3 separate regions of the Homo sapiens genome follow, and all the other regions are linked to region 3. Evidence: fine-mapped expression QTL. A gene starts in region 3. Each other region holds a variant in brackets. All regions are shown on one strand. Distances are from middle to middle.

Region 1 (10,328 bases), 26 kb after region 3:
TCTTTCTTTTTCTTTTTTCTTTTCTTTCTTTCTTTCTTCTTTCTTTCTCCTCTCTCTCTCTTTCTTTTTTTTCTTTTTTTTTCTTTTTTTACCTTAAACTACTAAGGGTTAAGAGACATTTTCCAGATTTATAATGTTTGTATACCTGGAAGGTCATAGCCATTACTAGATATGCCCCTGGTCTCTGTCATTTTGGTTTTCTCTCTTTAAATATGCATCTATCCTTGTTCAAAATTAAAATATCTAGGCCAGGTGTTGTGGCTTATGCCTGTAAGCCCAGCATTTTGGGCGGCCATGGCGATCATCTGAGGTCAGGAGTTCAAGACCAGCCTGGTCAACATGGCAAAACACTGTCTCTACTAAAAATACAAAAATTAGCCAGGCATAGTAGCACATGCTTGTAATCCCAGCTACTCCGGAGGCTAAGGTGGCGGGATCACTTGAACCCAGGAAGCAGAGGTTGCAGTGAGCTGAGATTACACCACTGCACTCCAGCCTGGGTGACAGAGTGAGACTCCGTCTCAAAAATGAAAATAAAAATACTTAGAAAGGAACACATGGAATAGAGGCGAAGCTCTTGGCTTGTGACCTAACTCCCTCTGTTGAGTCCGCAGCACTCTCAGTTCCTTTTCTTGGGCAACAAGAACCTATAGCTACAAATCAGTTATGGCTTACTCTTTCCTTATCGGGTCAAAAATAAATCAAAAGAAATTAGTCACAGCAATTGTTTGGACTCCGTGCCAAAAGAGATCTTTACCTCTTAGGGGAATTTCCCTGTTAAGGTAGCTGCCTTACCCTCAAAAGCTTCTTCAGACCTGCCTTGCCCCGTGGTGCCTCAGCTAGTGGCTCTGAGTCCCTAGAGCTCTGGGAAAATAATGACAGGACTCGATATATAGGTAAAGATGCCTCAAAGTTGTTGAGCACATCAACAAAACCATATGGCCTGACCTAGATAGCAAGAAAGCGAACTTTGACACTGATGATAGAGATGCCTGGCACTGAGAAGAAATCTAACTTTGGTCCGCGTGGCATATGGTGTGTCCTTTGCTGTCTATAAAGCTGGAGTTGCTGAGAATAGGACTCCCTTTGTACCATCATGTTGCTGACTTGGTCTGTGCTTCCGAAGTCAGTGCAACCCTGCAAGTTGCAGCTTTAATGTGATTAATGGTGGTTTCCACACTGGCAACCAGGTGACAGTGCAGGAGCCCATGATTCTTGTTGTTGGTGCAGCTAACTTTAGGGAAGCCTCGTATGCACTGGAGCTGAGGTTTATCACAACCTCAGCTGAAGAATGTTTTTAAGGAGAAACATGGGAAAACTGCTACCAGTGAAGGGCATGAAGAGGGCTTTGCTCCTAACATCCTAGAGAATAAAGAAGCCCCAGAGCTGCTACAGCATGCACTTGGGAAAGCCAGCGACACTACTAGGGTTGTAATAGGCACTGACCTGTCCGCCTCACAGTTCTTCAGGTCTGGGAAATATGATTTGGACTTTAAGTCTCCTGATGGTCCCAGCAGATACATTTGGCCCTGTACAAGTTCTTCTGCAATGATGGGTAGTATCCATCAAAAATCCCTTTGAGCAGGATGTTGGGAAGCTCAGATGAAGTTCACTGCCAGTGCAAGTATCCCAGCAGTGGGGGGGATCATCTCATTGACCAAACTGAAGGAATTGTGCACCTGCCTCCTGCTTAGGTGAAGCAGGTTGGCTCTGTGCCCTAGTCTATTCCAGAGTGTAAGCTGGTCCAGACCAGTGAGAGAGGTGTCAGGGGTTCTCATTACTCTGAAAAAACTGACCATGCTTCCGTTGCCACCCTGGTGGTGGGGCTGTGCACTGGACTGATCAAAACAGGTGCACCTTGACAAACAGAACTGGGCCAAGTATAGTCAGTTCCTCAGAAGCAGAGGGGCTGGATAGCAAGGCTCAGTTCGCCAGTGAGAAATTCAGAAATTCTCTAGCAGAGTAAGCACTGGGCAGGCAAGCCCCTGAGCTCTTCAAGCTCTGGAAAGCTAATTAGACATCTACTTCAGACAGCTCAAGACAGCAGACCCAAACTGGCAGGGCCCTCAGGTCGTTACCCCTCCTTTTCCAGAACCCTGTGTTTTTCTTCTCACTGCTTCACTAGAACTGCTATATCAGAGCCAAGCTTGACCACCTGGAACCCCATTTAGAAAGTTCTGCTTTTAAATCTAAGGCCAGAGGCCGGGTGCACTGGCTCACGCCTGTAATTCCAGCATTTTGGGAGGCCGAGGCGGGCAGATCATAAGGTCAGGAGATCGAGGCCATCCTGGCCAACATGGTGAAAGCCCGTCTCTACTAAAAATACAAAAATTAGCTGGGCATGGTGGTGCGTGGCTGTAATCCCAGCTACTCGGGAGGCTGAGGCAGGAGAATTGCTTGAACCAGGGAGTCGGAGGTTGCAGTGAGCTGAGATTGCGCCACTGTACTCCAGTCTGGTGACAGAGCAAGACTGTGTCTAAAAAAAAAAAAAAAAATCTAAGGCCAGAATAATATATATATGTGTATCTCTCTGTGTGTGTGTGTGTGTGTGTGTGTGTGTGTGTATATATATATATATGTTTTGTTTTGTTTTTTTAACAAAGTCTCACTGTCGCTCAGGCTGGAGTGCAGTGGCATGGATCATAGCCCACTGCAGCCCGGAGCTCCTGGGCTCGAGCGATCCTCCCGCCTCAGCCTCCTAAAATGCTGGCATGAGCCACCATGGCTGGCTAGAAAACTCATTTTTCTAACCTTGTTGCACAACAAGTGTTTATGGAGCCACTTATACCTTTGATGTAGTCCTGGAGGTTGTTGACAGGCAAGATCCTCGGGGATTTAATGCACAAATAAAAAATCGTTATTAAAAAAAAACAACCCAGAATATAAACAAACATACCGTAGGCTTAGGACAATACATCTGGCTTTACTTATTTAAAAACACTGCAGCGTCTTCTTGACTTCTTGTTCTTTTTTGTGTTTGTTTTTTGTTTTTCTGAGACAGGCTCTTGCTCTGTCGCCCAGGCAGGAGTGCAGTGGCACAATCGCAGTTCACTGCAGCGTTGAACTCCCAGCCCAAATGATCCTCCTGCCTCAAGTCTCTCAAAGTGCTGGGATTACAGGTGTGAGCCACCACACCAGGCTGACTTCTTGATCTTGAATTTTATAAGGATTCTAAAGGGCATTGGGTAGTTCCAGGACATCTGAGACCTTGAGGGAGGGTGCATTCCTCTGATTTTTGTGCCTCTGCCAGCAGTCTGGCTTCTAACAAAGTGGTCAAGGGATGCTGACTCACATGAGGCTTCTGGCAAAGTGTTCCAGAGGGAAGAGGAAGGGACCAGTGTCCTAACTCCTCCAGAAAGACTCATAGGACAGCATTGGCTTCCAGCCTGCCAGAGTGGGGGGAATCTTGTTTTTCACATTCACCAGGGAAAAGGTGAAACCCCTTTGCCGGAAATGACCAGGGAGGCTTCATGATTTATAATAAAGTATATTGTTTCATTTTAAAGTTAATACCTTAACCTTCTGGTGTCCCAAATGAGGTTGAGTTGTTCTGATGTCCAGCTTTCTCCCAAACCCAAAGAAAGATTTTTCTTATCAATGTGTCGTTATCATACAAACAACAAAGATAAAAACAAAAATGTTTTTGTCACTTTACTATAACACCTCATTTAAAATTGTTCTTTCAAATCCTAATAAATACAATTCTATATTTTGGGTTTTTTTTTCCTCCTTAGTGTAAATATTTTAAATTTCTTCTTAATTCCCATAATTATTTGTAATGGCTGTCATCTATTGAAGTGATATGCTATGTTATTCTTATGGTTTAAGGATTTAGGTTTGCAAGTTTTAAAGATTATATTATAAGTAATACTGCCGTATATATCACATAGAGTTTCTCCTTTCTCTTTAGATGATTTTCTTGTAATAAGTTTCTTGGAGTAGAGCACTGGGTCAGTGGATATGACCTGTACTGCCACATTGTTCTCCTGAATGATTATCCAGCATCCAATGCCTGTGAAAGATGATAAGTGAACAACTTAAAGGTTAACTCTTGAATGCCCAAGGGAAGACTTTTCAGCTACTTATATGTCATCTTATTTATTTAACTATATATTATTTCATCTACTTATTTATTTATTTTTAGAGAGGAGGTCTCATTATGTTGCCCAGGCTGGTCTCAAACTCTTGATCTCAAGCGATCCTCCCACCTCAGTCTCCCAAATAGCTGGGATTACAGGCATGAGCCACCATGCCCAGCAATATATAACAACTTTTAAAAAATTTTAGCTATACAACTTCTGATCATTTCTGTTTCTCTTGCTAATCATGTAGGCAGTTAGGAGCATTTTAACCATCAAAATAACAACAAAACCGAACATTTTTATTATGTGTTTACAGTTTACAAAATGCTGTCATGTCCAGCAGCTCAGTTAATCCTTACAATACTTGGTGAAGCATCTGGGATAGGGATTACCATTTCCTCCATTTTCAGACAATGAAAATGGAAAGTAGAGAATTTAAGGTCAACCAGATGGAGACGCAGCCACGACATGCGATGTTTTCGGGAGACACCCTGACCACCTCCTGCTCTCTTCCTCTTTTTCCCTGCCTAGGACTTCGGAAGCCCACGGTCCATCACCTCTCGGTGTGATCTGAGGGCAAACCTTGTCAAAAATGGCTGTGGAGGTGAGATAGAGAGCCCAGCCAGCAGCTTCCATGTCCTGAGGAGCCTGCCCCTCAGCAGCAAGGGTTCGGGCTCTGCAGGCTGGGACGTCATTCAGATGACACCACAGGAGATTGCCGTGAACCTCCGGCCCGGTGAGTTGCCCACAGAAAGGGCTGGATGCTCTGGGATCAGGAAGGCCCATGGGGGAGGTGGGACTTGTTAATAATGGGACAATGAGTCAGGCCAGGCTGAGATCAGAGCCACGAGATGGTGATGGGGAGGCAAGGCTCAGACCTCAGGAAGCAGAGTATATTCTTATTGATGTGTCTGTGGACAGGCTCCTGTGGACAGAGGAAGATCTTTGCTATTTTTAAACAATTGTGGTGAAATATACATAACATTTACCATTTAAGC[G/A]TTTTCAAGTGTACAGTTCAGCAGCATTAAATTCACAATATTGTATAAACATCAGCAGTATCTATTTCCGGAACATTTTCGTCGTCCTAAACAGAAAATCTATACCCATTAAACATTAACTCCTCATTCTCTCTTTCCCTTGGTTCCTGGTAACCAGCATTCTACTTTATTTTTTATTTTTCATTTATTTTTGTTTTTAAATTTTGTTTAAATCAGGGAGCAACTGATGGCAGAAATTACAGTCATTCAGGGTGTAGTGGCTGCCTACTCTACTTTCCGACTCTGAACTTGACTAGTCCAGATACCTACCATAAGTGGAATCATCCAATATTTGTCCTTTGAAGTTTGACTTGTTTCACTAAGTGTAATGTTTTCAAGTTTCACACATATTTTGGCATGTGTCAGCACTTCATTCCTTTTTTGGCTGAGTAATATTTCATTGTATGGGTGTATCACATTTTGTTTATTCATTTGTCAGTGAACATTTAGGTTGTCTTCAACTTTTGGCTCTTGTGAATAATGCTGTGGTTTATTCTAGGAGGATGCTGGTAGATTTACTCCTTAGTGAATGCAAGTTGCTCAGGAAACACGCCACTTTTAGGAAAAAGTGTTTTTTCCTGTCAGCAAATTCCATTTGAGTCTGTAGCATTCTGCAAGGACAAACTTTTAGAGTGGAGATATTTTGTTTTGTGACCATGGGGCCCTGCAAGCCTTAGAGTTGCTTAATATAAGGAAACGGTAATATAATTACTTATAATGTAATATAAAGAAACAGTTTTGCACACCTACTATGTGCTAAACACTTGACCTAACTTTAAGGTAGCTATCTTTTTTTTTTTTTTTTTTGAGATGGGGTATCGCTCTGTCACCCAGGCTGGAGTGCAATGGCACAGTCTTGGCTCATTGCAACCTTCACCTCCCGGGTTCAAGAGATTCTCCTGCCTCAGCCTCCCTAATAGCTGGATGTGTACCACCACGCCCAGCTAATTTTTTTGTGTGTGTGTTTTTAGTAGAGATGGGGTTTCACCATGTTGGCCAGGCTGGCCTTGAACTCCTGACCTCAGGTGATCTACCTTCCTCGGCCTCCCAAAGTGCTGGGGTTACAGGCGTGAACCACCATGCCTGGCCAGGTAGCTCTCATTTTACACACAAGGAAACAACCTGCTCAAGGTCTCTCAGTAAGTGGTGAATCGATTCAGCCCCAGGTCTTGGTAACCACAAACCCATGGCTGTTTCTAGTTCACCACTTTTATCATTGAATATTCTGCATATTAGAAGCCTTGCAATGTCAAAGGGTTAGATGTGCATGTGGCTAAATTGGAAAGTATTACGCTATTGGGAAGGGGCAGATTTTTTCACATTTTACTGATTTTTTGCTGTTTTCTTCTATCCCATGGTCTAGGAAACCATTGGCAGTAGCTATTTGTAGATGGTTTATTTAGACTCCAGGGAAGCTTGTAGCAGTGGAAAGATCATGGATCTGGCTGGCTCTCTTGGGTTCTAGCTCTGGCTCTGTCCCTAGCTTGGAGGCCCTGGGCAAGTTACTCCATCTCTCAGCATCTTAGGGTCTTTGTCACCTTTGTTCCTCATGGGCATGTTCAGAGGCTTAAATGGACTTTTTGTATCAGTGAACTTTTCAAAGTTAAAATTTTTATTATTTTCAAAGAGCAGTGGCCGAGGGTACCAGATGGAGGTTTGACCAGGGATGCTCAGTGCCTTGGAAATGGATTAACACAGTGCTGCATGTGGTAAGCACTCAGTAAAGCTCGTTGTTGTTGCTGTGGTTATCATTGTATGGTCTGCACCAAGAGTTTTTAAAGAAAGCTCCAAGTCATCATATAGTTGAGAAATGTTTTATTTTGTCTATTTTAATTGTCTTGAAAATAAGAAACAAAAGAAGAGTGTAAGTTGGCCCTGCTGGATAGAGAAGCTTAAACTATTGGGTTGCCTGCCCAGGAATCAGTGTTGAGATTAATTGAAGTTAGGATTTTTGCAAACCTTCTCACTGTAAGCAACACTCAGCCTTTTTGTTTAGTGAGATACTGAATTGAGAGAGAAAAGGAAGGGAACTCTTACAGAGCTGTGTGAGTGGGTAGAAAAAAGTCAGCTGAGCACTTATGTGGGCAGATGGTTGGTAATGTCCTCTGGGGAAAGAGAAATCTCTTATGTGAAGACAGACTCAGGGTCCAGGGTTTGGACCGAAAGGGATATAGGAGTTGTTATAGACCCTTAATATGTTGGAACATCGTGTTGTATAAGAATAGTGTATTTTCTTTTTTATCATAGTAACAGTATAGCAATAACACATGAAATTCTAGAAAAATAATCCACTTTAACATAAAATTATTTTTCATTTTTACTATGTCCTCTGTATTATTCACCTTTTTGTATTTTTCATATACTTATCATAATGTATGTATAATCGTGCTATTTTCATTCAATAATCTTTGAAAATTAGGAAAAAAATTCACACCTCCAAAAGAGTTTGTAGTTTCAGAGCCATTGTGGAGGAAGGTTTTAATTTACATTTTCTGAACTCCTCATCTAGAATAGCTCTCAAAGCCTGTGGTGTTCTCTCCAAGAAGTATCCTTTATGGTGGCAAGTCTCTCTTCTTCAGGATAGACTTAACTTAGACAAGAGTTGCATCACACAAATCCAAAGATGTCCACACTTTAATAATTCCAGTTTTTAAAATGAGAATTAAGGTGTGAGTGTGAGCAGAGATGGTTGTCTGGTTTGACTATCAACTGGCTTTTACAGCAGTTCCTGTAGAAGAGTTAGAGAGTTAGAGAAGGCCGGGTGTGGTGGCTTATGCCTGTAATCTCAGTGGTTTGGGAGGCCAAGGAGAGAGGATCGATTGAGGTCAGAAATCTGAGACCAGCCTGGGCAACATAGTGAGACCCCGTTGCTATGGGGGAGACTGAGGTGGAAGGATCCCTTGAACCCAGGAGTTTGAGGCTCCAGTCTAGATGAAGATGAGACTCTAAAAAACAAAAACAACAACAACAACAAGAACCCAAAATAAAAAATAAGTGATTTGAGTAACGGCAGGTTTGCATACAATCCGTATTTATGCATAAAACTCAATATATGCTCAGTTAAGGAAGAAAATCATTCTTATTTGGTATAGTTACATCTCCTGCTAAGCATTATGATATGATTTCTGGTATTAGAAATAAAATGGAAACCGTGATCCTATGTTGATACAAAACCACAGTGTGGATGCTGTGTAGCTCTGTCTTGCGGAAGGTGTCGTGGTGGAGAGCCCAGTGCTGGTGGTGTCAAGCAGTTGGAGGAGCTGACTGCCTCCTGAAAACACACCCAGACTATGAAGAGGGTTCAGTCTGAAGAGATGAAGACTAGGAAGAGATCTGATGAAAATACGAGTTCCTAAGACCTACAAGCATTGTGAATATGTTTCCCAAATGTAGAAACACTTGAAACCAATGATGCCTCTTAAAATTTTGAAAATATAATTTTAACATTTACAAAGAGAAGTACAGGCAAACCTGAAGAATTTGTGGGGAGAGAAAAATGGTATGTGGCAGTTAGCAAAATTTTCAGTCATGCAAAATGCATATTTGCCTCAGGGTATCTCCCCCCTGACTCTAGGGAGGGCTTTCAGGTATATAGGGGTTGGTTTTTCATATATCTATCTATATATATGTAGAGAGAGACAGAGTCTCGCTCTGTCGCCCAGGCTGGAGTGCAGTGACGTGATTTCAGCTAACTGCAGCCTCCAGGTTCAAGCGATTCTTATGCCTTAGCCTTCTGAGTAGCTAGGACTGCAGGCACACACCACCACACCTGGCTAATTTTTGTATTTTTAGTAGAGACGGGGTTTCACCATGTTGGCCAAGCTGGTCTCGAACTCCTGGGCTCAAGTCATCTGCCCACCTCGGCCTCCCAAAGTACTGGGATTACAGGTGTGAGCCACTGCGCTGGGCCTCCATTGTATATTTTTAGAAATGCTTTTGTGTCTTCTTCCTTGCCCTACCCCCCATGCCTCATAATAGTTATTCGTTGAGTGAAATATAAGACTTTGCCAGACTTATCGCAGACTAATCAAGGACAAGCCTCAGCATAATATGAAAGACACTTCATGAAGGCAAAGTAATTGTTCCAAGGTAAGTCTCAGGAAGGAAATAAAAATTAAAAAGAATTTCTGTCTACTTTAAGCAGGACATTTTTTATTTTTTTAAATTGAGATATAATTCACAGACCATAAAATTCACTAACTTAAGGTGTACAATTCAGTGGTTCTTAGTATATTTGCAAGGTTGTACAGTCAACACCACTGTCTGATTCCAGAACATTTTCCAAAAAGAAGTCCCATACCCGTGAACAGTTACTGCTTAAACTACCGTCTCCCACCCTCCCCTTTCAGCCGCTGGTATCCACTCGTCTACTTTCTCTCTATATAGTTTTGCATATTCTGGACATTTCCTATACGTCATAAAATGTGTGGGTCTTTTAGCTGGTTTCTTTCACTTAGCAACATGTTTCAAGGTTCATCCATGTTGTAGCATGTACTTCATTCCTTTTTATGGCCAAATAATATTCCATTGTGGAGGTATAGATATACTATATTTTAGTTTATGGACATTTGGGCTGTTTCTACTTTGGGACAATTCTTTTTTCTTTTAATAACTCCACAGTTAACACCCTATACTTTGGGGCAATTATGACTAATGCTGCTATGAACGTTCATGTACACACTATTGTGGGGACATATGTTTTCAATAATCTTGGGTCTATAGCTAGGAGTGGAATTGCTGGGTCATATGGTAATTCTATGTTTAACTTTTTGAAGGACTGCCAAGCTTCAAGCAGGATTTTGTGTAAATATAGGATCATGTTTTCCATTTTATTTCAGTACTGGAAACTACATGTCAGGATAAGAACCTTAGAAAAAATCATTAACAAAGAGCATAAAATCCTTAAGAAAGGACATAAACTTGAAAGTAAAGCTTATTGAGAACCGTCAAAAGCTAAAGGTGGTTTTGAAACACTGAGCAATTAAGAATAGTTTATTAAAGTCATTATTGGCCTCAGTCCTTTAACCTCTTAAAAAATGACCCTTGATTGGTAGCTTTCTTACATTTTGAAATAATTTTAGACTCACAAGAAGTTGCAAAAGTAACACAGAGATGTTCTATGTACCCTTCTCCGCTGTCCTCAATGATAGCATCTTAATATAACAAAAGTACATTCTCAAAACCAGGAAACCAACATGGTTACAATACT
Region 2 (10,328 bases), 120 kb after region 3:
TTCCTCACACACACTTGCACTCACACACTCATACACACTCACACTCGCTTTCTCACAAGCACACACATTCCTCTGAGCCGAGTGATATTCCTGCCCCTCACACCTGCTGAGTGGGGGCAGCCCCCGCCTCTCCACCCTTGCAGGCGATGGAGAGGACCCCCTGCAAGGAAGGGCCAGGGCATCCCCCTGCAGGTTCTAGTCCTGGCTGCCTGTGCTCATAGGAGGCAGTAGACTTTGGCACTGAGATCATGGACTCTGGAGCCAGACTCTCTGGGTTTGAGTCCTGGCTCTGCTGCCACTAGCTGTGTGACCATCAACCATTGCTTCACCTTTCTGGGTCTTGGTTTCACCCCTTATATAACAAGGACAATAATGCCTGCCCCATAAGTCACTGTGCGGATTCATCCCATTTCTACGTGTAAGGTGCTCATATAGGAAGCACTGGTGAGTGTTAGCTGCTGCTGCTGCTGCTGCTGTTCTCAGCATCTGCTCCTAAATCATCCATTTCTGGGTTTCGGGTCCCTGGGCAGGAATTCAGCTTCTAACTAGGACTCAGGGAGAACAACCGTGTTTTCTGCTATGGCTGTAACAGATGACCGCAGATTTAGTGACATAAAGCAACACGGATTTATTTTCTTACAGCTCTGGAGGTCAGAAGCCTGAAATCATTTTCACTGGGCTAACATGGAGGTGTCGGCAGGGCTGCATTCCCTCTGAGGCTCCCAGGGAGCATCGGCTTCCTGGCCTTTCCAGCCTCCAGAGCTGCATTCCTCGCATTCCTTGGCTCTTGGCATCCTCCCCATCTTCAGAGCAGCAGCCAGCATCCTGGCTTCTGTTGTCCCACTGCCACCTTCCTCTGTAGTCCAGTCTCCCTTGCTCCCTCTCAGAAGAACCTTGGTGATTACATTTAGGGCCCACAGAGACAATCCAGGAGAATCCCTCATCTCAAAATCCTTAACTTAATCTCATCTGTGAAAGCTCTTTTGCTGTAGAAAGTAACAGTGATACTCTGGGGATTGGAGTGGGAACATATTTGGGGGCCATTATTCACACAACTGAAGCAGGAGGAAGCTTCCCTGGGTCCTGGCCCTGTGGCCCAACTTGGCCAAGTTCTGGACCAACTTGGAGCACCAGTCTAGACCCAACCCAGCCACACCCGCTGCCAGGGTCCCCTGCTGTCCCTTCATGCTGGCTCTAGGCCCTCTGTCTATCTCCCCAAACAGGCTCTGAGGGCAGAGTTGGTGTTCCATTCTCTGCTGAATCCCAGTCCTGGCATGTGGGGCACCAGATGGTTATGTGCTCATGTGTAAAGGTGAGCAGGTGCTGATGTGCCACATGTATCCTTTTAGGCCATGGCGAGTGTCACTGCGGGGAATGCAAGTGCCATGCAGGTTACATCGGGGACAACTGTAACTGCTCGACAGACATCAGCACATGCCGGGGCAGAGATGGCCAGATCTGCAGCGAGCGTGGGCACTGTCTCTGTGGGCAGTGCCAATGCACGGAGCCGGGGGCCTTTGGGGAGATGTGTGAGAAGTGCCCCACCTGCCCGGATGCATGCAGCACCAAGAGGTACTGGTTCCACTGACAGCCCCACCTTACTTCTCACCCAGGCCAGGCCTGTGGTCCAGCCAGGCAGCCCTCAGGGCCGGCTAGCCTCCACTCCTCACCTCCTGCATCTCCCACCCAGCAAGCCTCGCTGGGGAGCCGCATTCTTACCAACCGTAACTGAAACTGTGGCTTTCAAATGCTGGTTCCATAAGGGTTTTGTAAGAAAACAAAAACAGAACAAGAAATACAAAACTGCTACTCTGTTCCTAAACACGTTTAGAAATCACGAAATCACAGAGTTAAATGAAATTAAATTGGTGTTGGTACCAAAAATAGCACCTTCTCAGAGCCTTGAGTGTACTATTGTGTGCTTTCACAGGAGAATACAGTGTGCATCTTTTTTCAAATGAATTAAATCCCCCACACTGATATCTCCCAAACAGTGTTTCACAGAACCCTTATGGGAAATGCTGACAAACATCATCAGAAGGTAAATTGGAAAGAGGCCGGGCATGGTGGCTCACACCTGTAATCCCAGCTCTTTGGGAGGCCAAGACGGGTGGATCACTTGAGGTCAGGAGTTTGAGACCAGCCTGGCCAACATGGTGAAACACCCGTCTCTACTAAAAATACAAAAATTAGCGGGGTGTGGTGGCACGTGCCTGTAATCTCAGCTGCTCCGGAGGCTGAGGCAGGAGAATGGCTTGAACCTGGGAGGCGGAGATTGCAAGATCGCACCACTGCACCCCAGCCTGGGCAACAAAGTGAGACTCCGTCTCAAAAAAAAAAAAAAAAAAAAGTAAATTGGAGAGAAAGGCACCCGACCTAGATAAGGCATGCCAGAAACCACTGCAAATGGCTTTTGAATTTTCTGCTCCATTTATACAGATAATAGAACACGGGCTCTGTGCTGCTGCTGAATGCAGAGATTGTCTAGACCTGGGCCCCAGCCTTCGCTGACTCGGCCATGGCCTCCCATAGCCGTGCTGACCTCCTCCTGCTCAGCCCCGCATGCTCCACCAGAGTGCAAATGAGAGGGAATTACAGAATGATGCCCCTGGAAAGCAGGAGTGACATTTGCTCTTGGAGTTTGCTGGAGAAACAGCTGTGTCATCATTACCCATGCTAAGGAGGAAGGGACACAGAGGATCAGAAACAAATCATAATACAAACGTCGCTTCTCTTTGGCTGAGGAACGCATCTGTGATTTTCTCTTGGCAGATTTCCCTTCCAAATGTCTGGCTCGGGCTGATAATGAAATGAGTTCATGCTCCCTGCGCCTGCAGCGGCTGCTGGTCAGTCTGTGCTCGGAAACGTTCTGGGTGGCAGAACCCCTGGTTGGACATTTGCCATAAATAACCCAGGCGTGGGTAATTGAAAGCTGGCTGCAGATGGAGAGACAAGATAGACAGGGCTGGGTTTTAATGTGTTTAATTGGAGGAGATGGGGGAGAGTAAGGAAGAAGAAAAACAGATTCACTTTAGACCTGCTAAGAGCAGAGAAAAAACAGATCCAAGTAGAAACAGCCCGGGGAAGGTTAGGATCCTGGATCTGGAGCCCAGATAGCTGTGGCCATCCCAGCACAGAGTCAGCCATTATCCACGTTTTGTATCCGAGGGAGGTGCCCCCAACCTCCAGCTCCCAGCAGCAGAACCTTTTTGAGCCTATGCTTCTAGTCCTTGGGGCACACTAGGTAAATGGGGAGTTGGGGTCAAGCTAGGACAATACACATGGAGCTCATCAAATGAGTCTTGCCTTCCTATGGAGCAGCAGGCAATGGAGGATTGGCTTTAAGTCAAAGGCCCAGGGGAAAACAGCTCTAGCTTTAAATGTTTAAAGCATTTATTTCTTAGAAGACATAGACTTAATAATTTATTATTCATTACACAATATGAAGGGAGCAAGGAGAGCAAAGAGATGCCACAAGGGAATATCACGATTCCTTTTTTTTTTTTTTTTTTTGAGACAGGGTCTCACTCCCGCCACCCAGGCTGGAGTGCAATGGCACCATCACAGCTCACTGCAGCCTTGAACTCCTGGGCTCAAGTGATCCTCCTGCCTCAGCCTCCCAGGTAGCTAGGACTATTGGCTTGTACCACCACACCTGGCTAATTTTTATTTTTTTGTAGAGACAGGGTCTTGCTATGTTGACCAGGCTGGTCTCAAACGTCTGAACTCAAGCAATTCTCCCACCTCAGCCTCCCAAAGTGTTGGGATTACAGGTGTGAGCCATTACACCCAGCCCACTATTCCTTCTTATTTGTCTCTGGGCCACACTGACCCTCTGTCTCTTTCACAGCCTAGGTGGAACTTTTTTTTCTTTTTAAACGAAGTCCTTTTGATGGTGACTTACATCAGAGTCTGTTTTTTCTACTTGCTGCTTGTTAGGAGGCACCAGGTTTTGAATGTCCTACATCCTTTTTTTTCTGGGGGTTTCAGGGCAGCCAGTCTTCGTTTTCTGGATCTAAC[T/C]AACCACACTTTTCACTTTGGGTGAGTTCACACTCAACACCCAGCTGATTTCAGTTAACAGGCTCTCAAGAGCAAAGTGTCTCTAAACAACTTAATTTTTTTAAAAGGCAGACTTATTTTAGTACATGACTACAATATATTACAAGTTTCAACCAGTACATGGGGCATATGAGTTAGACTGATATGTCCACATGGATACTTAGGGAGTGTTTCCTGGAAGCAGCCTGGAGCTATGGTTTAACAACAGAGAATCAGATGGCAGGGACAGAGAATCCTGGCCGGGAGAGAAAGCAGCCCTCTTAGCCCTGTGCTAATCTGGGAGGCTGGTGCAGGGGGAGGGTGGGGGATCGGGGGCAGCTGGGTCAGCATGAATGACTGAAGCTGGAACCACCCCTTCCTGGCCCCCAGCCAGGTCTCAGCTGCCCGCCTTCCGGGGCTGTGACTGTGGGGAGAGTTACCATCTTGTTTCTAACTTCAGAATATTTCCATAAAGTCAGTCCCAGGAGAGTGGGATTTTGTAGCCATTTCAGGGATGGTTGAGCTCCTAAGCATGTTAGAACCTCTTAGGAAGCCTAGTCTGAGAGGTGGGGCACCTGGCTGCAGAACCTCAAGTTCTCCTCCGTAAAATAAAGGGGACTTAGTGAAATGGTCTCAGAGCTCCCGTCCAGTTCTGCTCCTCCACTTCGCAGTTTCTGCACTGGAAATGTTTTAGTAGCTGGCCTCTTAATCCCGAGGAGTTAAGAAACAGATGATGATAAAGGCTCTACATTGCAGTTGCACATCCCTCTGTATTTTTGCCAGAGAGCTTTCTGGACACCCAGCCCCTTTGGTCCCCACAGGCCTGTGGGGGCACAGCGGCTGTCCCTCGTGTAGCTGAGGTCACCCCCTGCACTCTGATGGCCTCCCTGGCACACCTGGCTCTTGAGTCCTGACCCGGTTTCCTAGGGGCCTCTCCTGGTGTCTCACCCTCCTCGAAGGCCACCAGGCAGCACTGCATCACAAAGTCCCTGAGAGCAACATGCCCCAGCCCACTCCTCCCTGGAGCTTCGAGCTCACCATCTTATAGCCCCATCCCCCAGCCACCAGAGGAGCCTGGGACCTCTCCCCTTGAACATCAGCTTTACAGCCCGGCAGCCAGAGCTTAGCTCCCCACCCTGTGACCTCAGGAATCCTGTTCTCCCAGATGTCTCCGAAGACAGACAAAGAATGTGTGCAACTTGGTTTTGATGATATAAAGTATAATAATGACCATTTAATTGAACGTTGTAGTTAAGCATTTTCACCCACTATCTGAGCCACCACCTGCTGTTAGCCTGAGGTGGGAGGAGAGAGGCTCAAGGTGTCACTTTTTGGCTGCTCATCCATTTTCTAGAGGAGGCCCCTGTTAAAGAACAAGGGTTCCCTGGGAGGAGCCATCACCCTAGAGCCTGTGCCAGAGCCTAGTGTAGACTGATTCGTGGGTAAGTGGGCAGCAGGCCACGGGGGACCTGGCAGATGGGCTCTATCTGAGAGGGAGAAGGGGGCTGGAGCCCGAGATTCTCCGGGACAGTGGATCTCAGCCCTCGACATGCATCAGAATTGCCCAGGAAGCCCAGTCCCCGGAGGTGTGGTTGGGCCCAGGTACTGGGAGTTTCTCTTGAAAGCTCCCTGGAGAGTTGAACGTGCAGGAGGGTTGAGATCCCCGCCCTGGGTGATGACCAGGGCGTGATGTGGGGAACTAGGACAATGTTGGGGCATTGAGCTCTGACCATGGGAGTGTGAGGAGCTCTGGGAGGCCAGGAATACTGTTTTATCACCCAGAAACCTCTGGCTTGGAGCAGACTCCTCACCAGGCATTAGATGGACCAGAGTGCAGATGGATTTGTCTCCTGGTGTCAGAATTTGAAAGGTCTGCAACCTGACATGTAGACAAGACATGCCACTAAACTCACACAGGCTCCTCCAAGAACCCTTGGGCTTCCTCCCATAACAAGAAGAAAGGCAGAGCAGAAACATTCCCTGAGGCTGAACATCTGCAGCTGGAAAGAAGTGAAAGCCTTCCCAGGTCCTGCACTGTCAGGAGCTCAGGGACAGGTGTGGGACTGTTCTACATTATCTGACACCCACCTTTATCTCCTCTTTTCCAAAGAGATTGCGTCGAGTGCCTGCTGCTCCACTCTGGGAAACCTGACAACCAGACCTGCCACAGCCTATGCAGGGATGAGGTGATCACATGGGTGGACACCATCGGTGAGTGTGCTGCCACCACCCGGGCAGTCACGGTTTTTCTCCTTCCTGGGGAGGAGGGTAGTTTTAGCCTTGAGTCAGGAGGCACTGCCCAGGCTTCCTGGGCATAACTGTGGGCTCCCCATGAGGACCCGGTGCTGGAACCATCATCCACAGCTGATGGGAATGTAGAATGGTACGGACTTTGGAAAGCAGCTTGGCAGTTTCCTAAAAAGTCAAACGTAGAATCACCATACAATGTGCCAATTCCACTCCCAGGTATACAGCCTAGAGGATTAGGTCCATATGTCCATGTAAAAATACGTACAAAAATGTTCACAGCAGCATTATTCGCTATAGCCAAAGGTGGAAATGAACCACATGTCCATCAACGGATAAATAGAAAAGAAAACAAAGTGTGGTCCATCTATACAGTGGACACTATTGAGCCACTAAGAGGTGTGAAGCACTGAAACACGCTACGGCACGGTGAGGCCTGACCACAGTGCGGAGCAAAAGAAGCCATGTATTATATGGTTCTGTTCATATGAAATGTCCAACACAGAGAAAGCCATGGAGACAGAAAGTACATTAGTGGTGTCCTGATGCTAGGGAGAAGGGAAAATTGGCATTGACTACTAACAGGTGTGGATTTCTTTCTGTGGTGATGGAAATATTCAGAATTAGTGGGAATGGTTACACAACATTGTGAGTTGAGTAAAACGACTGATTGTACACTTTAAAATGGTTTAAATGGTGAGGGGGAAATTATGCACCTTGAAAGGGAATCTGTGTCTCAGGCTCCCCTCACTGGCAGGCTTCCCCTCTATCTTCACCTCTGGCTTCTGCAAACTCCTGGCCCCCAGCTGCCTGTCTGTCTTGGTCCTAACGTACATCTTTTGTAGACTTCCTTGTTCCCACCTGCCTATTTTGACTGACTACAGTCACGGCTTCTGAGGGTTTTTTGTCTCGAGACAGGGTCTCTGTCACCCAGGCTGGAGTGCAGTGGCACCATCATAGCTCACTGGAAGTCTCGACCTCCTGGGCTCAGGCAAACCTCTTTCCTCAGCCTCCCAAGTAGCTGGGACCACAGGCATGTGCCACCATGCCTGGCAAATTTTTGTTTTTGTAGAGACGGAGTTTCACCATGTTGCCCAGGCTGGTCTCAAACTCCTGGGGTCAAGCAGTCCACCTGCCTCAGCCTCCTAAAGTGCTGCCATTACAGGTGTGAGCCACCATGCCCAGCTCCTTCTTAATATTTGAGCTATATATGCATCCAGCACATATTCGTTGAGCGCCTACTGTGTGCCAGGTGCTGTCTATCTCCTTAGGAGACTGTGGGGAGTGGACCACAGTCTGGTTCCTCACATGCCTGTCTTCCTGCCCCTGCTTCTATCTTGCAGCTCAGGGCCTGGCCGACCTCAGGTTCTGCCAGCAGACCTGGGCTGGTTGCCCCTAACTAGGCACACATGGTCAGAGAAGGAAACAATGCCTTCCTGTGGCCCAAGGACTGGTTCGCTTGGTTTATAGCAGTGACAGCCGTTCATGCACAGCTGCTTCCCAACCCAGTCCTCTGAGAGAGCAGCAGAGAAAGCTTATGTTCCAATCCATCATTTACCCTTTTTCTTCTTTCTTCCAAGCTTTTTTCATACACACACTCACATGCTCACTCATACTCACCCAGCCCAGAAGGGAGCTGAGACAGAAAGTCCAGGCTTTCGTGTCTGATAACCACACTAATTCATCTGCTTCCAGGTTACAGCTCCGTCTAGCAGCAAGGTTGAAAAGGTTAAAAAGGCAAGAGCTGGAAAGCATTTACCGCCCTAGTGTTCACCTTCTGTTCCTCCCCAGGACCCATTGCCATTGCCACTGCATTTCCTCACCCCTTGCCTCACTTTGCACTTCCCCTAGTTCCTTTCTCTCCAAAAAACAGCCCGCTAACCCTCTCCCAGGGAAGCCTTGGAATGTAGGTAATGCCTGGACAGGGGACTGTGACACCCCCACCTTGGGGAATGGCAGCAAGGGGGCAGGGAGTTGCTGAGGCAGCTTGAGGAAGGGGCTTCTTAATATGGAGGAGGGAGGCCGGGCCACGTTCAGGGCCAGGCTGGGGACAGCCTGAGTTCCACACTGTCTCACTTTATCTCCAGGCATGGCCACCACGGTGGGCACCAGCCTCTCACCCAGTGTCCTCACTGCCCTGTGGTTCTTTTTGATTTTGCATCCCAGGAAGGAGTTGCTGCCTCTTGGCCTCTGTGGCCAGCTCTCAGCCCCAAGTGGCCTGGGCTGTTTCTCAAATATGAAGCCCCACTCAAGCCTCAAAGGGGGCTGGGATGGTTTTTCTTTCTTTCTTTATCCCTTTAATTTCCGTGGCCAATCCCTTCACCCGTCCCCACCCCGAAACCATTAAAACCTTCTGTTATTTCACATCACCCCCGACTAACACTTCAGAGGCTTGGAGATCCTCTAATGTGTTCCACGTGTCCCCAAAGCCATCTAAATTCAGCCCTGGGCCTGCATTCTTGGTGTGAGAAAACTGAACTCATCTTCAAAGGCCCAGCCTCCCCTTAAGATTTTCTGCCCACACCCCCCATGCCCTTTCCTTTTTCAAGGCACTCGGCTCCCTGCCCCGACCATCAGTGGCTGTGGGCTGCTCAGAGAGACTCAGGCCATTCCCGCTTGGTTTTCTTCCAGTGAAAGATGACCAGGAGGCTGTGCTATGTTTCTACAAAACCGCCAAGGACTGCGTCATGATGTTCACCTATGTGGAGCTCCCCAGTGGGAAGTCCAACCTGACCGTCCTCAGGGAGCCAGGTAGGTGAGGGCTGCAAGGGCTCGGCCCACTCAGCCAGCCCTCAGTTCTGATTTCTGATGCCATTCTCTGCTCTGGGACCACTGCCCTTTCTGTCCTCATCGGCCTTTTGAAACTGCAGGGAGAGGAGGGATACAATTTCTTCTTTTTCTTTTTTTTTTTTTTTTTGACACAGGCTGTCACTGTGTCATCCAGGCTAGAGTGCAGTGGTGCCATCACAGCTCACTGCAGCCTTGACCTCCTCGGGTTCAGGTGATCCTCCCGCTTCAGCCTCCCGAGCAGCTGGCACTACAGGCATGCACCACCACACCGGGCTAATTTTTGTATGTTTTTGGTAGAGACAGGTTTTCACCATGTTGCCCAGGCTGGTCTCGAACTCCTGGGCTCAAACAATCCACCTGTCTTGGCCTCACAAAGTGCTAGGATTACAGGTTTGAGCCACTGCACCTAACCAGTACAATTTCTCATGAAGACCAGATCTGAGGTCACTGCTGCTCCACTCCTAGAGTTTAGAAGAAAGATGAATGTGCAGCTGGGGGCCCATTCTTGGGGCAAGCGCTAGTGGGAGCGTGAGTCAGGGCAATGGGAGTTATAGAAGGATAGGGCCCTGTCCCTGGGGAGGGTCTCATCTTGGAGGAGCACAGACGTGAAAGTAACCACAGAACATACCTACCCTGCACAGCCAAAGGCAGCAAGGAGCTGCTGTGTTCTGCAGGGAGGGTGCAGGGCATCTAGACCACCAGGGCTGGGCAGGGTATCACTCAAGTCAGGGAGCATCCAGCTCCACACACAGCCTGGGCGGGGCCACTGCTGCTTCCCAGCATGGATTCCAAGGACAACGGAGCACTGGGTTCAACATTCCTGCTGCTCCCATGCTCAGCTCCCAGCACCACTGAAGAGGTCAAGCTTTAATCCAAATACCAACATTCTGCCTCTGCTTGGACCCAGGGACCAATAGCCTTTGCCTTGGAGTAACTGGAATATCTGATATCACCCCTTACATTCTTCTTGGGGGTAGGGAGGCAGGGGTGGAGCAGAAAAAGATTTGCTCTCTTCAATCGACAGCACTGCAAACTATTTTTCCAAATTGAGCCCAACCACATAATGTGCCTTCCTGAGGCCAGAGGCAGAGAGAAGTGTGGTACCAGCCTAGGATGCACGCCTGTAAGAATGAGGCTTTGTTTCCAATGCTGTGTCTGAGGTTCTTTGAAAACAAGCACATTTACTCCAAGGGACACCACGCTAAAGGCTTACAAATGTTGGCCCCCAGCCCAGACCTTGTGGAAGTGGCTTC
Region 3 (9,487 bases):
GGCACCCACCACCATGCCCAGCTAATTTTTGTATTTTTAAGAGACAGGGTTTCGCCATGTTTAGCCAGGCTCATCTCGAACTTTGGCCTCAAGCTATCCACCCGACTGGGTCTCCCAAAGTGCTGGAATTACAGACATGAGCCAACGCGCTGGCCCCATTATTTATAATCACTGCCTCTCAAACTGGCATAAGAGTAGCTCCAAGGCCACTGACCTAAGAGACAGGTAGCTCCAAGATAAACCCAGGACAGCTCCTGTAAAATGTTTAGGGACAAGCGTTTTACATCAAAACAAACATGAGGATATTATAGAATATGTTAACCCCAAATATCTGAGACCAGTCTCAGTCAATTTAGAAAGTTTATTTTGCCAAGGTTAAGGATGTGCCAGTGACGGGAAGTCCTGACAATATGTACCCAAGGTGGTCGGGGTTACAGTGTGCTTTTATACGTTTTAGGGAGACATGAGACATCAATCAATATGTGTAAGACGTACATTGGTTTGGTTTTGTAAGGCAGGACAACTTGAAGTGGGGGCTTCCAGGTTAGAAGCAGATAAGAGACAAAAGGTTGCATTCTTTTGGGTCCTTGATCAGCCTTCCACTGAATACACAATTTAGTCTGGCTCAGTGAATCTGCATTTTTACATAAACAATAGGCCAGAGGGAGCAATCAGGTATTCATTTGTCTCAGGTGAGCCTCAGAGGGATGACTTTGAGTTCTGTCTGTCCTTTGTCCAAAAGGAATTTCCTGTGGGTAAATTGTGAGGGAGGTATGTAGCTTCTTAGCTATCTTAATTAGGCATAAAATGGGAGGCAGGTTTGCCTGACACGGTTCCCAGCTTGATTTTTCTCCTGGCTTAGTGATTTGGGGGCCCTGAGATTTATTTTCCTTTCACAAATACTATAAAGGAGCTTGCTATGGACTGCTGCATCTTTGCCCCCAGGCACACTATATTGTACTTCAAGAAGTTTACTTCCTCAGGCATTGAGGCACCACCTTGTTAGAGTTTGGGAGGAGGCCAAGAAATAAAGGTTAACATCCAAACTCCTTGAGCTGGGCAGTTAGGACAGTTTTCCACTGGGCCCTCCAAGCCATTCTTCCACCAGGTCCCTGGCCTGCAAAGGTGAGACCCCTTTGTTCTTTCCCCCTTACTGCTTCAGTTTTAGCCAAGCCATGCTGCACTTTTGAACGAGGCATCCTAGCTGTCACTTCCTCCAGCAGTTAACCCCTCTGTCCCTCGGTTCCTCAACTGGATAACAGTAGGGTTGTCGGAGGATGAAATGAGTTAATATGGGTAAAGGACTTAGAACAGTGCCTGGCTGGCAGTGTGCTCTCTGTACTTGGTAGGTATTCTATCGTTATTTTCCCCTACCTGAATGTCGCCTCTTCTCTTGCCTATCAACCACTCCACTCTAAACGCACTTGTAGCGAATCCAAGCCCAAGGCATCCTTTCCTGCACCATCTGAGGAAGACCCCACCCCACTCTTTATTGGCTAGTTCAGATCCAGCTTATATGTAAATGATAAGATGAAAGCCTGAGCATATGTTTTTGAGTCTATCAGTTTGATCATGGAAACTGACAGATTATCAGTAAGGACAACGAAATATAGCGGCATATTGGCCAGTCTCAAATCCTTGAAAGGTGCAAAAGTTAAAAAGTGAAAAGTGGGCCGGGCACGGTGGCTCGCACCTGTAATCTCAGCACTTTAGGAGGCAGACACAGGAGGAATGCTTGAGCCCAGGAGTTCAAGACTAACCTGAGCAACACAGCGAGACCCCCATCTCTACAAAACATGTAAAAATTGTCCGGGTGTGGTGGCGCGCGCCTGTAGTCCCAGTTACTCAGGAGGCTAAGGTGGAGGAACCTTTGAGCCCAGGAGGTCCAGGCTGCAGTGAGCCAAGACTGGGCCAGTGCACTCCAGCCTGAGTGAGAGCAAGACGCTGTCTCAAAAAAAAAAAAAAAAGAAAAGAAAAAGAAATGTAGGTTTTACTTGTGCCTCCACGCCCCACCACGCCCTCCCTTGCTCATCCAGAAGTCGCTTTGCGGTTCCACGCGCGGGCGTCTACGTCCCATCTCAGGCCGCCGGCAGTGAGGCTTTGGGAGGATGAGGCGGTACCGGCACGACCCCCGTACCTGCTCTCCCTCTCGCAGTCTAGCAACCGCCTTTGGCCCAAGTAATCTCGGCTCGCCTAATACAGCGTGCCCCGCCCCTTTCCCGTGGCGACGGGCGGCTAAGCAACGGGAGCGGGCTCTACTCAGTGGTTTCGAGCCCCCCACGCCCCAAGTGAGTCGCAAGCGACTTCCACCTGGGCCCGTAGGGCCTCCGCGTCCCGGGCCGGTCCCCGCACAGGGCGGAGCTGGCCCGGCCCGGAGCTCGCCCCGCCCCGCCTCACCGTAAGCTGACCGTGTGGCGGCCGGGCGAGGGCCTGGCAGGGGAGAGAAGGGGAGGAGAAAGGAGAGGAGGAAAGTGGAGCCTGGCGGGCCGGAGGGAGGAAGGGAAGGGGCGGAGGCCAGGGGCAGAGTGTGCCGGCGCGCGGGGGAGTCTCGGCGCTGGGCGCGTCTCGGAGCCCAAGTCGCGGCCGCCGAGCGGAGCCAGCCCCTCCCCTACCCGGAGCAGCCCGCTGGGGCCGTCCCGAGCGGCGACACACTAGGAGTCCCGGCCGGCCAGCCAGGGCAGCCGCGGTCCCGGGACTCGGCCGTGAGTGCTGCGGGACGGATGGTGGCGGCGGGGCGCGGGCCAGCGCGGGCGCCGTGAGCCGGAGCTGCGCGCGGGGCATGCGGCTGCGGCCCCCGGCCCTCGGCCCCCGCGCTCCGGCCCCAGCCCCGGCCGCCGGCCCCCGCGGAGTGCAGCGACCGCGCCGCCGCTGAGGGAGGCGCCCCACCATGCCGCGGGCCCCGGCGCCGCTGTACGCCTGCCTCCTGGGGCTCTGCGCGCTCCTGCCCCGGCTCGCAGGTAAGCCGCGCCGCCCACGGCGCCCAGAGAAACTTTGTCGCACACTCAGCCGCGGGCGGGCGTCTCGGAGGGGCGGGGAGCGCAGGCGGTGCCTGAGGGCGGAGGGCGCCTTCGGGGCACTCCCTGGTGGGCCAGTCGCTGGGGGACAGCCCCGCGGGGCGCTCCCCGCGCGCAGCCCCGCCGGGCTGTCGTGAGTCTCCTGTTCCCTCCCGGGCTGAGGAGGAGCTTCCCTTCCTGTGTAAACAGGCTGGCCGGCCTGCTGACCTAGCCCGCCAGGGCCCGCGCCCAGGGCACGGGGAGGACCGCCGCCAGCCCTGCCTTGGGGCCCGGGCTCTCCGTTGGCGGGCACAAAGCGGTCCTTGTGGCCGGCCGGGAGCGGGCGGGCTGCTGGGGGGATGCCGTCGGTGCCCTGTTCCCGGAGAAGCAAGGGAGTCTCGAAACCCCAGCCAAAGCCCGGGGCCACCTCCACTCCGGAGGGCTCGCCTCCTGGAACAGCGGGTGCACAGGGCCCACAGCGAATCCTGGAGTTCGCTGCGCCTAGGCTAGCCGCCTGCCTTTGAAGATGCAGCCCCCACCCTCCCCGCCCCCCGCCTGCTTCCTCCTCGCCTAGGCCACCGCAAACCCGAGGGGGCACCCGCGTCCCAAACCACAGCCCCACCTGGGACTTCCCTATTAAATTCCTTCTGCCCGACTTTATCCCGCGATTTGCACACGCTCGGAGCCTCACACTCCCCTAACTGTGGAGGATTCTGGAGCAGAGGACAGGGGCTGTGGAGATTGCCTTAGCCCGACGCTGCGGTGGGCTGGCAGCGTTGCAAGGATCCCTCGGTTACCTGCTCTAACTTTTCAGAGTTGGGAGATGATTGGACGTGGTAGTTTGGAGGCCCTCGAGGAAGGATGCACTTGTTTGGGATGCGGATTTTCTCCTTTCTTTTAGGAAATAATAGTGCTCTATTAACTTTCAAGCCGGAGATACTTGATTGCTCTTGTGAGCCAAGTGGTTGCCTGGCTGCCCGAAGGGAGGACTGTTCCCCCACGGTGTCTCATTTACATGAAGGCAGTGGAGGTTTAGGTTTAAGAGCGGAGGAGGGGTCTGAGCAAACAATAACTTCGTTCAGACCCTAATTCAAACTTAATACTGTAGCAAGGTTTTTGGTTTTTGTTTTAAATGGGAAAATAATCACTCCAGAGCTTGGAGAGTAGATGAGTGGATTCCAAACACCCATCCGGCAGCCAGTGCCCATCACGGATATTTTCATGGGTCCCTAGGGAAAGCGAGGAGCAGGAAGATGTAGCCTGCATCACACAGGAATGTATTGTTGTCAACGCTCCCCTGCTCCACAAGGACTTTCCTTTAGTTTGAAATTAGGCACTTTTTCTTTTTTTGGTGGGAACATTTTCTTTTAATACTTCTTAATAATATTAGTAGTTTTTAATTTTGGCAAAATAAGAAAATCTGACAACCCTATGTTAAGCTCCCCTTCTCTTTTTCTGTTTGTTTCTTTTGTTTTGTTTTTAAATCTTAGTTTTCTTTGAAATCCAAAAGTTCAGAAACTGCCAAAGGAGATGGCTTTTAAGTTCCTTTCCAGCTTGACATTCTGTAATTCTGACAAACAGAATTATAATAATAATTTCTAGTTGCAAATAATTTTTTTTTTTTGAGTCAGAGTTTCAGTCTTGTAGCCCAGGCTGGAGTGCAGTGGTGCCATCTCGGCTCACTGCAACCTCCACCTCCCAGGTTCAAGCAATTCTCCTGGCTTAGCCTCCCAAGTAGCAATGATTACAGGCGCTGCGACCATGCCCGGCTAATTTTTGTATTTTTAGTAGAGATGGGGTTTCACCATGTTGGCTGGGCTGGTCTTGAACTCCTCACTTAAGGTGATCTAACTGCCTTGGCCTCCCAAAGTGCTTCAATTACAGGCATGAGCCACCACGCCTGGCTGCGAATAATTTCTAAAAATACATTATTTTCCACTTGCATCTTGCTTTCTCTTTTTCAGAGTTCACGTACATCTTCACGGTGATGTCCATTTTCTCATATGGGCTCAGGAAGGAAGTGACTTGCCCTTCCCCTCTACTTGGGTCAGGAGTGGTGGACCAGGGACCATGGCTTTTGGTCCAGTGCCCTTTGTCCTACCGACTCAGCTTAAGGAAGAGAAAAGCACTGAGCATGGTGGTTCATTTGCAACTCTTTTGGGGTCCTGTTTTCCCATTGCCTATCTTTTCTTTTCTTTTTTTTTGAGACAGAGTCTCACTCTTGTTGCCCAGGATGGTGTACAGTGGCATGATCTCAGCTCACCACAACCTCTGCCTCTCAGGTTCAAGTGATTGTCCTGCTGAGTAACTGGGATTACAGGCATGTACCACCACGCCTGGCTAATTTTGTATTTTTAGTAGAGACAGGGTTTCACCATGTTGGTCAGGCTGGTCTCTAACTCCCAACCTCAGGTGATCCGCCCGCCTCGGCCTCCCAAAATGCTAGGATTACAGGTGTGAGCCACCACGGCTGGCCTCTGCCCATCTCTTTGACTACAGGTTTTGGTGGTGGTGGTGGTGGAGCAAGCCATGGCACTGGCCTCCAGAACTTGCTGCTTACCTCTTAGGGCCCTGAAGCTTCTCAGGATTAGCAGAGGTTGACTCACATCTGTGTCATTTCTCCTAGTTTTTCAGTGTTGCTGAATTAACTTCAACATTCTTTTTTTTTTTCTTTTTTTTTTTTGCTTCCCTTCCCTTCTTTGTTTTCTTGAAGCACTACAGGTACTTTATTCAGGGAGTGTTTCTGTCTTGCCACTAGGAACATTATTTGAAAGAAAAAAACCTAGTTACTCAGAGAAAAGAAAGAGATGACCCTCAGGGCCATGCCTGCCTGGGTGTTCCTGGACCAGTGGTTGAGTGCCTCTCTCTGTTGCTCTAACCCCACTTTCATCTCAGTACGGATTTCCAGCAGGAAACTGACCTTAGGTTTCAGGGGCTCATTTCAAACAAGTCCCTGGCCGGCTGACAACCCCCTCCCGTCCCCACCAAGGGCTATCTCCTGCTCTTTTTATTATCTTATGGCCAAGAGCCTTCAGACAGAATCCTAGGATGTGGTCTTCCCACAAAACCAGGGGTCTCACTGAGGTGAGGCTTTTCCACGCTGCCTTTGCTAAGACAGAGAGAGGAACACCGTCTTATAAAGAGGATCCTGCAACACCGCTGGAATTATGTGTGCTATCACATTCATTTCTTTTTAAAAAAGCAATCGAATGTTCTTCTAGTGAATGCTCTGCACATCCTAAGAAAGCCCTTTGTTTTATTTAGTGGACTCATGTTGGCAGCACCCTTCCTCTACCCCCAACCCCCTACCACATTTCCTGTGGTCTGTGATGGGGTTGTTGGAATTTGGCTGGGTCTGCAGCTCTCTGTAGGTAACCAGGCACAGGTTTAGAGCTGACAGGACAATGAAATACAAACAGTGGGTTTGGTCTGTAGACTGCTGTTTATCCTATGGATTTACATTTTAACTCCATCATCCTTGAGTTGGGGGAGCTTTTTATAAAGGGGATTGAGGCAGAAGAGGGCAGGGTCTAATTAGCTCTAATTAGTATTCCCCGCCTGCTTGTTCTCCATGCTTATTTAGCTACTGAGGCAACGGGGAATTAAAATATCTAAGTAGTTTGGCAAAAGGCCTTTTGTGCCTGCGTGGCCTGGTAACTACTTTTTCTTATTCAGCCTGGCCATGGAAATATTCTGAGATGCTTTAACGATATCAGTAATGTGGGACAATTACAAACTACTTAAATAATAGGGCCCCTTTCACATGGCAGTGTGCAGCTGGGTTAATGGGATAGGGTCTCTTTTCACAGGTATTTCCAGTTGGCTGGAGCCGAGGGCCTTGGAGAACTGACTGCCGTGGTTTGTTTTCCTTCTTTCCGGTTCGAATGGGATTAATGGCCTCTATAAATGTAAAGGAATGCTTTATTTAGAGGCACCCATTTGTTTCTGAGGCTTCTTGCTTCCGTTGAATGCAGGGTTTACTTCCCGGGCCTCATGGTGAAAAGTTTGCTCTAAGACAGGCTTGACTCATCCCCTAAGGCTGATGCTTTGAAGGCACTGCGGGGTACCCTGCCCTCTCTTTATAGGATTCCCTCCCCAACTCCAGCCAGACATTTTCAGAGCTGGTTGTCTCTTGTAGAGCTGGGACCTACTTCTGCAACTTGTTCTCTTTAGTTATTCTCAACTGTCCCTCAGAGTGATCCTGAGATCCAACTCAAGTCAGATCATATCTCTCTGCTTAAAACCTTCGAATGGTTTCCCAGAGTCCTGCCAGGCTCCACGAACTCTCCACCTACTTCTCTGACTTTCCTTCACCACTTTCCCTTCGATCCTTTGCTCCAGCAGCATGGGCCTCCCACTGTCCCTTCAGCGTGCCAGCCATGCTCCCATGGCAGCCCTTCTCCCTGCCTGGAATACTGTCCTCCAAGATATCTGCATGACCGGCTTCCTCCACCCTGCAACCCTTTTTCTAGCATCTCCTGCTCAGCCAAGTTTTCCCTGGCCGCTCCCAGCTAAAGCTGCAACCTCCTCCCTATATCCCGAGTTCTTTTTATCTGCTTTTCTTCTTTAATTTTTGTCCTTAGCACTCACCACCATCTAATGTAACTACATATCTTCTTCACTATTTCCCCTAAGTAGAATTCTCCCCCAGCCAGGATGTGAGCTCCGTGAATAAGGGAGTCTTGTTGGTTTTATTCATCTCTGTATCCTCCATGCCTACAACAGCACCAGGCACATATTTGTTGAATGAATAATGGATGAACCTGAATCTTGGTAATTGGGAGGTGAAGAGGGCGATGCATCCCGTCCTCAACTCCCTGTTGCCTTCCACAGCTAGCTTTGAAGTCAGGGACTATGCATGCGGCTTGTTAGGAAGAAACATCCTGGGAGAAAGAGATTCTGTTGGAATGTGTCAGGATTTTTTTTTTAATTGGAGTCTCACTCTGTTGCCCAGGCTGGAGTGCAGTGGTGCAATCTCTGGTCACCGCAACCTCTGCCTCCCAGGTTCAAGCGATTCTCCTGCCTCAGCCTCCCGAGTAGCTGGGATTACAGGCGTACACCACCGCACCTGGCTTATTTTTTAATTTTTAGTAGAGATGGGGTTTCACCATGTTGGCCAGGCTGGTCTTGAACTCCTGACCTCAGGTGATCTGCCCACCTTGGCCTCCCAAAGTGCTGGGATTACAGGCATGAGCCACCACTCCTGGCTTTGTGTTAGGATTTTTTGAGCTGGTATGGAGGCCATTTGGTCTACTCCCTGAGTTGTTTGCATGAGGAAGCTGAGGCCTGGAAAGGTTAAGTGACTTGCCCTAGGTCACATAACCAATAAGTGACAGAACAAGTCCTCTGATCTTTTATACCCAGTATATCCTGTTCTCCTTCCCTACATCCCTGGGTGGAGCAGAACTATCTCCTCCTCCTCCTGCTTTCATGGCCCATTCCATTAGAGAGACTGGGGGCTGCAGCTGGTCTGTCTCACCTGCTACCTGGTTAATAGCCCTGGTCTTATTTACCTGTGTCCCTGACACAGCCACAATGCTTGGTACTCAGATGATCCCTTCTCTCACCCCAGGATTTTAATGGGCTTAGAAAAACTTTATTTAAAAGATTTGGCCAGGCAGGGTGGCTCACACCTATCATCCCAGCACTTTGGGAGGCCGAGGCAGGCAGATTACCTGAGGTCAGGAGTTCGAGACCACCCTGGCCAACATGGCAAAATCCAGTCTCTACTAAAAATACAAAAATTAGCCAGGCATGGTGGTGTGCACCTGTAATCCCAGCTACTCAGGAGGCTGAGGCAGGAGGATCGCTTGAACTTTGGAGGCCGAGGTTGCAGTGAGCTGAGATCACACCACCGTACTCTAGCCTGGGAGACAGAGACTCTGTCTCAAACAAACAAACAAACAAACAAACTTTTACATATGTACTTTTTCTTTTCTTTTTCCCTTTCTTTTTTATTTTATTTTGAGATGGAGTCTCACTCTGTTGCCCAGGCTGGAGTACAGTGGTGTGATCTTGACTCACTGCAACCTCTGCCTCCTAGGTTCAAGCCATTCTCATGCCTCAGCCTTCCAAGTAGCTGGGATCACAGGCACGTGCCACCATGCCTGGCTAATTTTTTGTATTTTTAGTAAAGATAGGGTTTCACGATGTAGGCCAGGTTGGTCTTGAACTCCTGACCTCAGGTGATCTGCCTGCCTCAGCCTCCCAGAGTGTTGGGATTACAGGCATGAGCCACTGTGCCCGGTGTCTCTTTTATTTATTTATTTATTTTTTAAAAAAAGACAGAATCTCGCTCTGTCACCCAAGTTGGAGTGCATTAGCGTGATCATGGCCCACTGTAGCTTGAACTCCTGGGCTCAACTGCTCCTCCCACCTGGTCCTTGCAAATTGTTGGGATCACAGAAGTGAGCCAGTGTGCCTGGCCCTTAAAAAAGCCTTCAAAGAATTTAGAGCAGTTTTAGATTTCCAGAAAAATTGAGAAGATAGTGCAA

What was found. PIP is the estimated chance that this variant, and not a neighbour inherited with it, causes the effect.
Region 1: its variant is the best candidate, but not a certain one, in a credible set for the expression of ITGB5 in tibial nerve (GTEx, PIP 0.58).
Region 2: its variant is the best candidate, but not a certain one, in a credible set for the expression of ITGB5 in whole blood (INTERVAL, PIP 0.60).

What each region holds. Positions count from the first base shown.
Region 1 is chr3:124,853,732-124,864,059 of GRCh38, reverse strand. It overlaps ITGB5 (integrin subunit beta 5), which reads left to right. Exons shown (of 15, transcript NM_002213.5): 3 at 4,614-4,818. It also overlaps the pseudogene ENO1P3. Among named protein-coding and RNA genes, the nearest start is that of ITGB5, 28 kb to the left of the region's middle. RefSeq lists an enhancer at 4,715-5,252. The variant G/A (reference allele first, on the strand shown) is at 5,081.
Region 2 is chr3:124,764,934-124,775,261 of GRCh38, reverse strand. It overlaps ITGB5 (integrin subunit beta 5), which reads left to right. Exons shown (of 15, transcript NM_002213.5): 11 at 1,350-1,572; 12 at 6,149-6,249; 13 at 8,917-9,036. Among named protein-coding and RNA genes, the nearest start is that of MIR544B, 38 kb to the right of the region's middle. RefSeq lists enhancers at 1-303, 304-1,018, 1,735-2,449, 2,450-3,165, 4,106-4,185 and a silencer at 6,265-6,314. The variant T/C (reference allele first, on the strand shown) is at 4,021.
Region 3 is chr3:124,880,401-124,889,887 of GRCh38, reverse strand. It overlaps ITGB5 (integrin subunit beta 5), which reads left to right and starts at 2,523. Exons shown (of 15, transcript NM_002213.5): 1 at 2,523-2,957. The coding sequence starts at 2,888. RefSeq lists enhancers at 263-1,147, 1,148-2,030, 3,799-4,683 and silencers at 2,145-2,584, 3,045-3,134, 6,192-6,486.